2 separate regions of the Homo sapiens genome follow, and region 1 is linked to region 2. The links come from fine-mapping of genetic effects on gene expression. Tissue or cell type: lung. Region 2 holds a variant in brackets; the other region holds the start of a gene. All regions are shown on one strand. Distances are from middle to middle.

What was found. PIP is the estimated chance that this variant, and not a neighbour inherited with it, causes the effect.
Region 1: it holds the start of SMARCB1, and the variant in region 2 is fine-mapped to the expression of SMARCB1 in lung (TOPMed, PIP 0.99). The same link has a PIP of 0.9 or more in blood mononuclear cells.

The regions. Positions count from the first base shown.
Region 1 is chr22:23,785,062-23,790,173 of GRCh38, forward strand. SMARCB1 (SWI/SNF related BAF chromatin remodeling complex subunit B1) reads left to right here and starts at 1,905. Exons shown (of 9, transcript NM_003073.5): 1 at 1,905-2,201. The coding sequence starts at 2,109.
Region 2 is chr22:23,813,841-23,819,038 of GRCh38, forward strand. It overlaps SMARCB1 (SWI/SNF related BAF chromatin remodeling complex subunit B1), which reads left to right. Exons shown (of 9, transcript NM_003073.5): 6 at 2,930-3,096. Among named protein-coding and RNA genes, the nearest start is that of DERL3, 23 kb to the right of the region's middle. RefSeq lists enhancers at 2,090-2,591, 2,592-3,093. The variant C/G (reference allele first, on the strand shown) is at 2,238.

The sequences.
Region 1 (5,112 bases), 29 kb before region 2:
CTAACACCATGAAACCCCGTCTCTACTAAAAATACAAAAAATTAGCCAGGCGTGGTGGCGGGCGCCTGTAGTCCCAGCTACTCGGAAGGCTGAGGCAGGAGAATGGCGTGAACCCAGGAGGCGGTGCTTGCAGTGAGCCCAGATCATGCCACTGCACTCCAGCCTGGACGACAGAGCAAGACTCTGTCTCAATAAAATAAGTAAATAAATAAATAAATAAATAAATAAATAAGGGATGGTTACCTCTGTACTGAACATGTACGGACTTTTTTCCCTATCATTGTTCCCTAAACAATAGTATAACAACTATTTATATAACATTTGCATTGTATTAGGTAGTATAAGGAATCTAGAGATGATTTAAGGTATACAGGAAAGTGTGTGTAGGTTATATGCAAGTATGACACCATTTTATATAATGGACTTGAGCATCTGTGGACTTTATTATCTGCAGGGGGTCCTGGAACCAATTCCCATGGATACTGAGGGATGACTGTACTTTGGTTTCCCACCACTGTGAGGATACAGAACAAAGCAACTTCAGTCACTGCCCTTCCCAACTCTCCAGTGTCTCCTTGCCCTACCTTCCAGCCCCATGTGTGTCTTCGTAATAGCATAGTTGCATTTTTTTTTTTTTTAAGAGAGGCAGGGTCTCCCTTTGTTGCCCAGGCTGCAGTGCAGTGGTGCAATCAGCTCACTATAACCTTGAACTCCTGGGCTCAAGGGATCTTCCCCTCTCCACTTCCCAAGTAGCTGGGGCTACAGGTGCACACCGCCATGCCACACCCAGCTTATTTATTTTAGAATTTTTGTAGAGACAGGGTCTTGCTGTCTTGTCCAGTCTGGTCTCAAACTCCTGGCTTCAAGTGATCCTCCCTGCCTTGGCCTCCTAAAGAGTTGGGATTACAAGGCCGGGCGCAGTGGCTCACACCTGTAATCCCAGCACTTTGGGAGGCCGAGGGGGGCGGATCACGAGGTCAGGAGATCGAGACCATCCTGGCTAACATGGTGAAACCCTGTCTCTACTAAAAATACAAAAAATTAGCTGGGCGTGGTGGCGGGTGCCTGTAGTCCCAGCTACTTGGGAGGCTGAGGCAGGAGACTCCAGCCTCAAAAAAAAAAAAAAGAGTTGGGATTACAGGCATGAGCCGCTGAGCCCAGCCACAGCTGCAATTTCATTAGATTGAACGGTGTGAAATCATCAGTAGTGGGCCACTGTTTTACTCCCTGCATTATTCAATCATGATTGCTTTCAGACTTTCATTAGTTTCACTAGCTTCGCGCTGTAAGAGCCAAGAGGCAGAGCCACAGGGCTGGGCTGCCTGGTTTCACTCCCCACTGCAGGGCTCGGTTAAGCAGAGTGTAGGCTAAGAGAGGAATGGAGAAGGTGGAAGGTGTCTCTCCCTTCCAACGCTCATCTGATGCACCAGCCAAACCAAATACCACCTGGGCCTTTGAACATTGCCAAGCCTCATCCGCTGTTGTCATTTTGCCCACCTCCACAGCTGCAGGGACAGCCGTAGGCCCGGAACTGGGATATCTCTTCCTAGGGGCCTGCCTATCTGCTCAGCTGCACTGCGTTTTAGGGGTGGGGAAGCTAAGGCACGAGATTGGGGTCCCAAAGCATGCCCAGACCACCCAGGCTTCCAGATACTAGGTCCTCCTCCTTCAGGCCTCACTTCGTTGCTTTTCCCCTGGGCTCAGTTCCAGTCCTGGCTGTAAGACTGGGAAAGCCACTGCTTGAGTCAGGACCTCATTGGCTATTTTTGTCCGTGAGAAGTCCTCTACACCACGACTTGGGAGGCAGCCTGGGAGAAAGAGAAATTAGTCGTGGCTCCTTTAAGGGGTCCGCGGAGGCGCGCCCGGCCTTTTGTTTGAGCGGCGGCGCGCGCGTCAGCGTCAACGCCAGCGCCTGCGCACTGAGGGCGGCCTGGTCGTCGTCTGCGGCGGCGGCGGCGGCTGAGGAGCCCGGCTGAGGCGCCAGTACCCGGCCCGGTCCGCATTTCGCCTTCCGGCTTCGGTTTCCCTCGGCCCAGCACGCCCCGGCCCCGCCCCAGCCCTCCTGATCCCTCGCAGCCCGGCTCCGGCCGCCCGCCTCTGCCGCCGCAATGATGATGATGGCGCTGAGCAAGACCTTCGGGCAGAAGCCCGTGAAGTTCCAGCTGGAGGACGACGGCGAGTTCTACATGATCGGCTCCGAGGTAGCCCGGGGCGCGTTCTCGCCCTCCCCGGGCTCGGCCCCGCGGGAGCCCCGGGGCGGGCCCATGCGCCGAGAGCGCGCGTCTCCATTCATCGGGGCGGGCGGGCGCGCGCGCGCGCGCTCGGGGCTGTGGGGCGTGGCCTAGTGGGCGTGTCGGGTGTGGCCCCCGCCCCCTCATCGACCTGGGATTTCCTTACTTATTTCGCCGAGGTCCGCCGCCTTCAGTGCTGCCAAGATTTTGGCGCCGCGAGGGGCCCCAGTGGTTCCGCGCTGGGTTGGTTTCCAGTCAGACGCAAAGAAACGGGATATTGAGTTAGCCCCTGCGACGCTTGGGGGACTGCACTGCTGCCTTTGACCCTTTTTAGATGTCGTAAATTTCACGTGCACCCCTCCCCGTATTGCTACTTGTGGGAACCTCAAATGGCAGGCTGGAAACCCTGGACTTAGTGAGGGCTCATCCCCATTGTGTTTGTTGCCTCTTAGGTGAGCAGTGGAGGTCTTTTGACCTTTGTTTACCGGTGAAGAAACAGATTGGAGGAAGATGTTTGCTTTTGGGTGAATAAGGGCCCCATGCCTAAGCTAGATCTTTCAGCAGTTCTGAAGCGATTGACACTTTCCATATCTGTGAACTGATTCTGAATTATTACAGGGGAAAGAGCCTAAGGATGTTTAACCCTTAACTAGAGTGGCTGCATTTTGTTGCATCAACTGGATGACTGACTTCAGGAAAACTCTACTGGCCTTTGAATGGGTGTTTGTTCCAAGTCTATTAGGTTCTTGTTTTTTGTTTTTTATAGAGACAGGGTCTGGCTATGTTGCGCAGGCAGGTCTCCAACTCCTGGGCTCAAGCAGTCTGCCCGTCTGGGTCTCCCAAAGTGCTAGGATTACAGGCATGAGCCACCACACCCGGCCATATATTAGGTTTTTACAGATTGTCTCAAACTAGCCTTTTTTGCTCCAAAGGCAGTCCCCAGCTAGTATATGTTACCTTTTTAAAAAAATTATGGATATACAGTTCAGATGTACAAATGTCAAGCAGTAGAATCTCATGTAAGGAAGTAAGTGCCAATCCTGGAGAATTAAAGCTATCATGAAATGCCAAGAGTTTCTTCTCCTTATAGCAGTTTTTAGTATCATATTCCAGCATTTTATTCGTACTTTATTTTCTTTTATTTTTGAAAAAAGATCTCACTTTGTGCAGTGGTGTGATCTCGGCTCACTGCAGCCTTGACCTCCTGGGCTCAAGCGATCCTCCTGCCTCAGCCTCCCAAGTACCTGGGACTACAGGTGTGCACCACCGTGCCCGACTAATTTTTGTATTTTTTGTAGAGACAGGGTTTTGCCATGTTGCCCAGGCTGGTCTTGAACTCCTGGGCTCAAGTGATCCTTGCACCTCAGCCTCTCAAAGTGCTGGAATGACAGGTGTGAGCTACTGCACTCACACTCAGCGCATTCATACTTTTTAAACTTGTGGGTTTTATCCTTCACAATTGAGCATAGCATGAATGAATGAAGCCTCAAGATGGTCACACTGAGTCCCATGGATGAGACTAAGGTCAATAGCATCAGAACTTTAGTGTTAGCATTTTCCACCATTTTTTTTTTCTGGACGAGGTTTGACTCTATCACCCAGGCTGGAGTGTAGTGGTGTAATCTCGGCTCACTGCAACCTCCGCCTCCCAGGCTCAAGCCGTCCTCCCACCTCAGTCTCCCAAGTAGCTGGGACTACACGCACACACCACCACACCCGGCTAATTTTTATATTTTTAGTAAAGATGGGGTTTTACCATATTGTCCAGGCTGGTCTTAAACTTGTGAGCTCAAGTGATCTGCCCGCCTCGGCCTCCCAAAGTGCTCGATTATAGGCGTGAGCCACTGTGCCTGGCCTCCACTAATTTTTATAAAACAAAAAATATAGGATTCAATAAAATTTTCACGTTGTCACTTAAATTACAACTGTTCAAAGATGCCAGTGCTGGGGAGGTAGAGCCAGTGCCTGTCCATCTGCCACAGTTCAGAATGGTCCTCATTGGCCAGTAGGCACCTGCCTAACTGCAGAATGCAAAAGGTGTCAAATTTCAGCCTGTGATACTAGGCGAGTTGTTTACCTGATCTAATGGGTGTAAAAGTAATCAGTTTGGCTCTAAGTAGGTGACACTTCAAAAGAAAGCTTTCATTTATTAGTTGGAGCAAATTGAGAAGCTGTGCGTGGCCAAGTGGGAAGAACCTTGGGAGGCCTGGTTCCAGCCCTGCTCTGCCTTGCTGTCGTGTTTCTCATGTGTATAATGTGATGCTTAGACTAGATGGTCTCCAAGATCTTCCCCAAAACACATTTTAGTTTCTAGAAAGCTAATTACAGTCTTGTCTTTCAGCCCCTTGACTCCTGGGCCTCCCAGTAAGAATAATCTTCCTGAGACCCAGGCTGTAAGAGACTCAGTTGGAGAGGCAGTTTGTTCTTTTGGGCCTGACTTAATCATCAGACCTTCGGAGTTTAGGGAAGAGTTCAAGGTCAGAGCTCTATTGAAATTCAGTAGCTCCAGTGATAGTAGTGGATGGACGGTCTCAGCCCACTGCCCTGTGGAAAACAGGCACTGTATTCAGAGAGGTGGGCCAGCCATAGCAACATACCCAGTGCCTCCATGCGCCATCTGTGGAGCTGTCTTGGGAAGGCATCTGCATTTACTAAGAGTGTGTGTCACTGTTCTGCCATTAACAGACAGCTGTATTTACCAAGCCGGAGTCATGGAGCTTTGAGGACCCTAACAGATCCCCAAGTCCAGCACCTTGATTTTATATTCAGGAAACCTGGGTCCCAAGAGGGTGAAGGCTGGTTCAGAGGAAAGCCAGGAAGGCAAGCCCAGTTTCCTAAGTTCTGAAGGGGCTTTGGGGGGCATCTAGGAGACTCAGAGCCC
Region 2 (5,198 bases):
TTTTTTTGAGATGGAGTTTTGCTCTTTTGCCCAGGCTGGAGTGCAGTGGCATGATCTCTGCTCACTGTAACCTCCACCTTCCGGTTTCAAGCGTTTCTCCTGCCTTAGTCTCCCGAGTAGGTGGGATTACAGGTGCCCGCCACCATGCCTGGCTAATTTTTGTATTTTTAGTAGAGACAGGGTATTACCATGTTGGCCAGGTTGGTCTCAAACTCCTGAGCTCAGGCAGTCCGCCTGTCTCAGCCTCCCAAAGTGCTGGGATTACAGGCATGAGCCACCACACCCGGCCAGCAATTTTGAAAAACAGTAAAGTGGGAGTAATCATTCTACCCAATCTCAAGGCTTACTATATAGCTACGATAATCAAGGCTGTGTGGTATTGGTGGAGTGACATACCGTGATGGAACAGAATTGAGAATCCAGAAACAGACCCACACAAACGTGCCCTCCTGATTTTTACAAAGATGCAAATGTGATTCAATGGAGGAAAGACAGCTCATTCAACAAAATGGCACTGGAGCAATTAGACAATCATAGGCAAGTAGGCTGGCACAGTGGCTTACGTCTGTAATCCTAGCACTTCGGGAGGCTGAGGTGGGCAGATCACCTGAGATCACGAGTTCGAGACCAGCCTGACCAAGATGGAGAAACCTCGTCTCTACTAAAAATACACAATTAGCTGGGCGTGGTGGCGCATGCCTGTAACCCCAGCTACTCGGGCGGGTGAGGCAGGAGAATCGCTTGAACCTGGAAGGCAGAGGTTGCTGTGAGCCGAGATCACGCTGTTGCAATCCATCCTGGGCAACAAGAGTGAAACTCTGTCCCAAAAAAGCAACAACAACAAAAAAGGCTGGGCACAGTGGCTCACGCCTGTAATCCCAGCACTTTGGGAGGCTGAGGTGGGCGGATCACCTGAGGTCAGGAGTTTGAGACCAGCTTGACCAACGTGGAGAAACCTCGTCTCTACTAAAAATACAAAATTAGCCGGGCATGGTGGCGCATGCCTGTAATTCCAGCTACTTGGGAGGCTGAGTCAGGAGAATTGCTTGAACCCAGGAGGCCGAGGTTGCTGTGAGCCAAGATCACGCCGTTGCGCTCCAGCCTGGGCAACAAGAGCAAAACTCCGTCTCAAAAAAAAAAAAAAAAGGCAAAAGACAGGAAGAGAAATTTCACTAAAGAAGTTATATAGGTGGCAAATAAACATTGAAAAGCTTTTCCACATTGTTAGCCTTAGGGAAATGCAGATTAAAATTACACTGTTATTCCACATCTTTAAAAAGTGGTGACAGCATCAGATGCTGGCGAGGATGTGGAGGAACTGGGTCACTCACAAGCTGCTGATGGGAATGTAAAGTGGCTGGAAAACTGCCCTAGAAAACAGTGTGGCAATTTCTGTTAAAAACTAAACATGCGGCCAGGCGTGGTGGCTCACACCTGTAATCCCAGCACTTTGGGAGGCCGAGGCGGGCGGATCACGAGGTCAGGAGATCGAGACCATCCTGGTTAACATGGTGAAACCCTGTCTCTTCTAAAAATACAAAAAATTAGCTGGGCGTGGTGGTGGCTGCTTGTAGTCCCAGCTACTCGGGAGGCTGAAGCAGGAGAATGGCGTGAACCCGGGAGGCGGAGCTTGCAGTGAGCCGATATAGCGCCACTGCACTCCATCCTGGGCGACAGAGCGAGACTCCGTCTCAAAACAAACAAAAAACTAAACATGCAACCAGTGTACCTTGAGCATTTATCCTGGAGAAATGAAGACATGTTTATACAATAGCCTACACGTGGATGTTCATAGCAGCTTTATTTATAATAGCGGGAAACTGGAAATGATCTAGATAGCCTTCAGTGAGTGAATAGTTAAAGTGAGGCCCCTTCGTACCACAGAATGTCACTTGGCAGTAAAAGGAAGTGACAATCTGGATGAATCACTGGATACAGATACAGTCCTCTATCTTGTCTTTTTTGGAGGAAACTGGGCGCAGTGTGCATGGAATTTCTCTGTGTTGTTTCTTGCATCTGTACATGAATCTACAATTACTTAAAAATTTTAAAATGCTCTGGGCAGTGTATTCACTGGGTGTTTACCCCGTGCACCTGAGGTTCCTGCTGTTGCTGCCCCGCAGGCTGTTAGGATGCTGGTCTCCAGCGTGTCTTTAGGGCAGGGAGGAGATAGTGGGGCTGTGGTCTGTTAGGCCGACCTGCTTCTTGATGATGGAATCCTACTGTCTGCTCTGAGG[C/G]AATTTTTCTTGGCTTTTTCAGCTTATTCCTGCAAGGCGTCTTGTCAGTACGGTCTGGGTGGAGCAGGGAGAGAATGTTGACTGAGAGGACCTTGCTGAGGTCTGGCTGGCCACAGATGGTCCCTGTGAGCTCCCATCTGGTACAATTCCTTTTCCAGGATCCGGGATCTGTAGGGACCTCCACGCTTGTGACCTTGTTGAGGCCCTGCTGCTGCTACTGCAGTCACAGGCCTGGAAATCGCTGTGGCTTGGCACAGTGTGTTTTGCTCACATGAGGCCTGGTATTGGGCCAGCCTCTGTGCCATCACGTCTGCCACCAGTTCAGCACAGAGGGGAGTAGAGAGATGGCACGCAAGCTTTGATGTGCCTTTGCTGGCCTCGCCTGGATCATCTCATTAGTTGGGATAATCTCATGCGCCCACCCAGCTATGAGTGGAATGAGGGAAGTGTTTATGGCCATGACCACCCCCAGGGCATGGAGCAGGAGGTCTGTGCAGGATGAGGGCTGGGGGCCTGCTAGTCATGTGCTTCCTCCTTCCACTCCCAGTTTCCAGGAAGGCCACCCCCAGTGCCCTGGTTGTCCTCTCCTGCATCCGGAGATGTTTGGCTTCAAAGAAGAAGGGGTGAGGGAGGCCGGTCCATGCCCAAGCATGGTGCAATCTCTTGGCATCCCTTCCCTCTCCTGATTTCAGAGAAGTTGATGACGCCTGAGATGTTTTCAGAAATCCTCTGTGACGATCTGGATTTGAACCCGCTGACGTTTGTGCCAGCCATCGCCTCTGCCATCAGACAGCAGATCGAGTCCTACCCCACGGACAGCATCCTGGAGGACCAGTCAGACCAGCGCGTCATCATCAAGGTAGGTGACTTCTCACCCAGCACTGGAGCCTTCCTGGCCCTCAGGGTGGGTGTCATCATGGAGCACTGAGGGTACACCAAGGCCTCAGCAGAAGCCCGTCTTTGGGTTCCATATCATCTGGAAAGTCATAACACCTGGCTTTGCTCCCTGCAATCCCCCAGGAAGGGCATAGGCTGAGTTCTCATAGTAAAGTGTTATATTCCGGACACATTCAGGGGGTGTCTCTGAGGCACTGCCAGGCTCTGAGCAAAGCCCGGAGGTCTAGAGGAGGTGAAGGCAGCTGATTGGCTGGGCCAGGCTGAGTGCTCCAGGGGGGCCTAGTAACCCAATAAGATGCTGCCTTAGTGGCCATATTACAGGTGAAGAGGTGGGCACGTGGAGAGCTGAGATCACCTGCGGAAGTTGCAAACTGGCCAGTTGAGAAATGGTGAGGCTGGCGATTGGGCGCAGGCCTGCACCCTGCAGAGCCTATAGCATAATCCTTGCTGTGCTGAGCCGCCACTGCCAGACTATGCCTTGAGGGTGAGGGGAGCTTTGAAAATAGGAAGATATGAGAAGTAGGTGAAATTGGCACATGTGATGACCCTAAAAAGGTCAGTGGTTTGGTTAGATCTGATGCTGTGCCTTTGGCTTCCATTTTAGGAAAACATTGATGTATAAAAATAAGAGCCATGTTACAAAGGGTTCCTGAAAATAGTCTTTGGGGTCGAGGAGCCTCGGGAGGGATGCCTCCTGTGACTGAGGGATGCCTCTGCCCCGTGCACCAGATGGAGCCTGGGCCGACTTCTTCCCACTGTGGTTCTCCGTGGCACTTTACTAAGATTTTGGAAAATAACGTGGGGGAATCACCAGCAACTTCCTCTGTGGTCCCCCAAGTAACAAACAACTAAATATCTTATTTAGTTAGTCAAGACAGTCTCACTGTGTCGCCCAGGCTGGAGTGCAGTGGCTCGATCTTGACTCATTGCAACCTCCACCTCCCGGGTTCAAGCAATTCTCCTGTCTCAGCCTCCTGAGTAGCTAGGATTACAGTTGCCCGCCACTAAGCCAGGCTAATTTTTGTATTTTTAGTAGAGACAGGGTTTCACCATATTTGTCAGTCTGGTCTCAAACTCCTTACCTCAGGTGATCCACCCACCTCAGCCTCCCAAAGTGCTGGGATTACAGGCATGAGCCACCGCACCTGGCCGAAATACTTTGGGTGTGTGTGTGTGTGTGTGTGTGTGTGTGTGTGTGTGTCGCAGTCTCACTCTGTCGCCCAGGCTGGCTTGCAGTGTGCGATCTCAGCTCACTGCAAGCTCCGCCTCCTGGGTTCACACCATTCTCCTACCTCAGCCTCCCAAGTAGCTGGGACTACAGGCGCTTGCCACCACGCCTGGCTAATTTTTTGTATTTTTTATAGCAGAGACTGGGTTTCACCGCGTTAGCCAGGATGGTCTCGATCTCTGGACCTCGTGATCTGCCCACCTCGACCTCCCAGAGTGCTGGGATTACAGGCATGAGCCACCACACCTGGCCAATACTTTGTTTTCTTGATTAATATTTTAAAATTGTGGTAACATTCATAACATAAAATTTACCATTTTAACCACTTAAGTGTAAATTCAGTGGCAGTATATTCACATCCATGGCTGTGTAATTATCACCACCATCCATCTCCAGAATTCTATCATCATGTAAAACTGAAACTGTCCATCAAACACTAACTCCCCATTCCCCCTCCCCCCACCCCTGGCAAGCACCATTCTGCTTTCTGTCTCTATGAATTTGACTACTCGAGGTGTCTCATTTACATTCCTAAGGGAATCATGCAGTATTTGTCCTTTTGTGACTGGCTTATTTCACTTAGCAGAATGTCTTCAAGGTTCATTTATGTTGCACCATGTCAGAATTTCCTTCCCTTTTTAAAATGTATTTATTTTTAGACAGGGTCTTACTCTGTTGCCCAGGCTGGAGTGCAGTGGCGCAGTTATGGCTCACTGCAACCTCTGCTTCCTGGGCTCAAGTGATCCACCCGGTGCAGCCTCCTGAGTAGCTGGGAAGCTAGGACTACCGGCACACTCCACCACACCCGACTGATTTTTTGTATTTTTTTTGTAGAG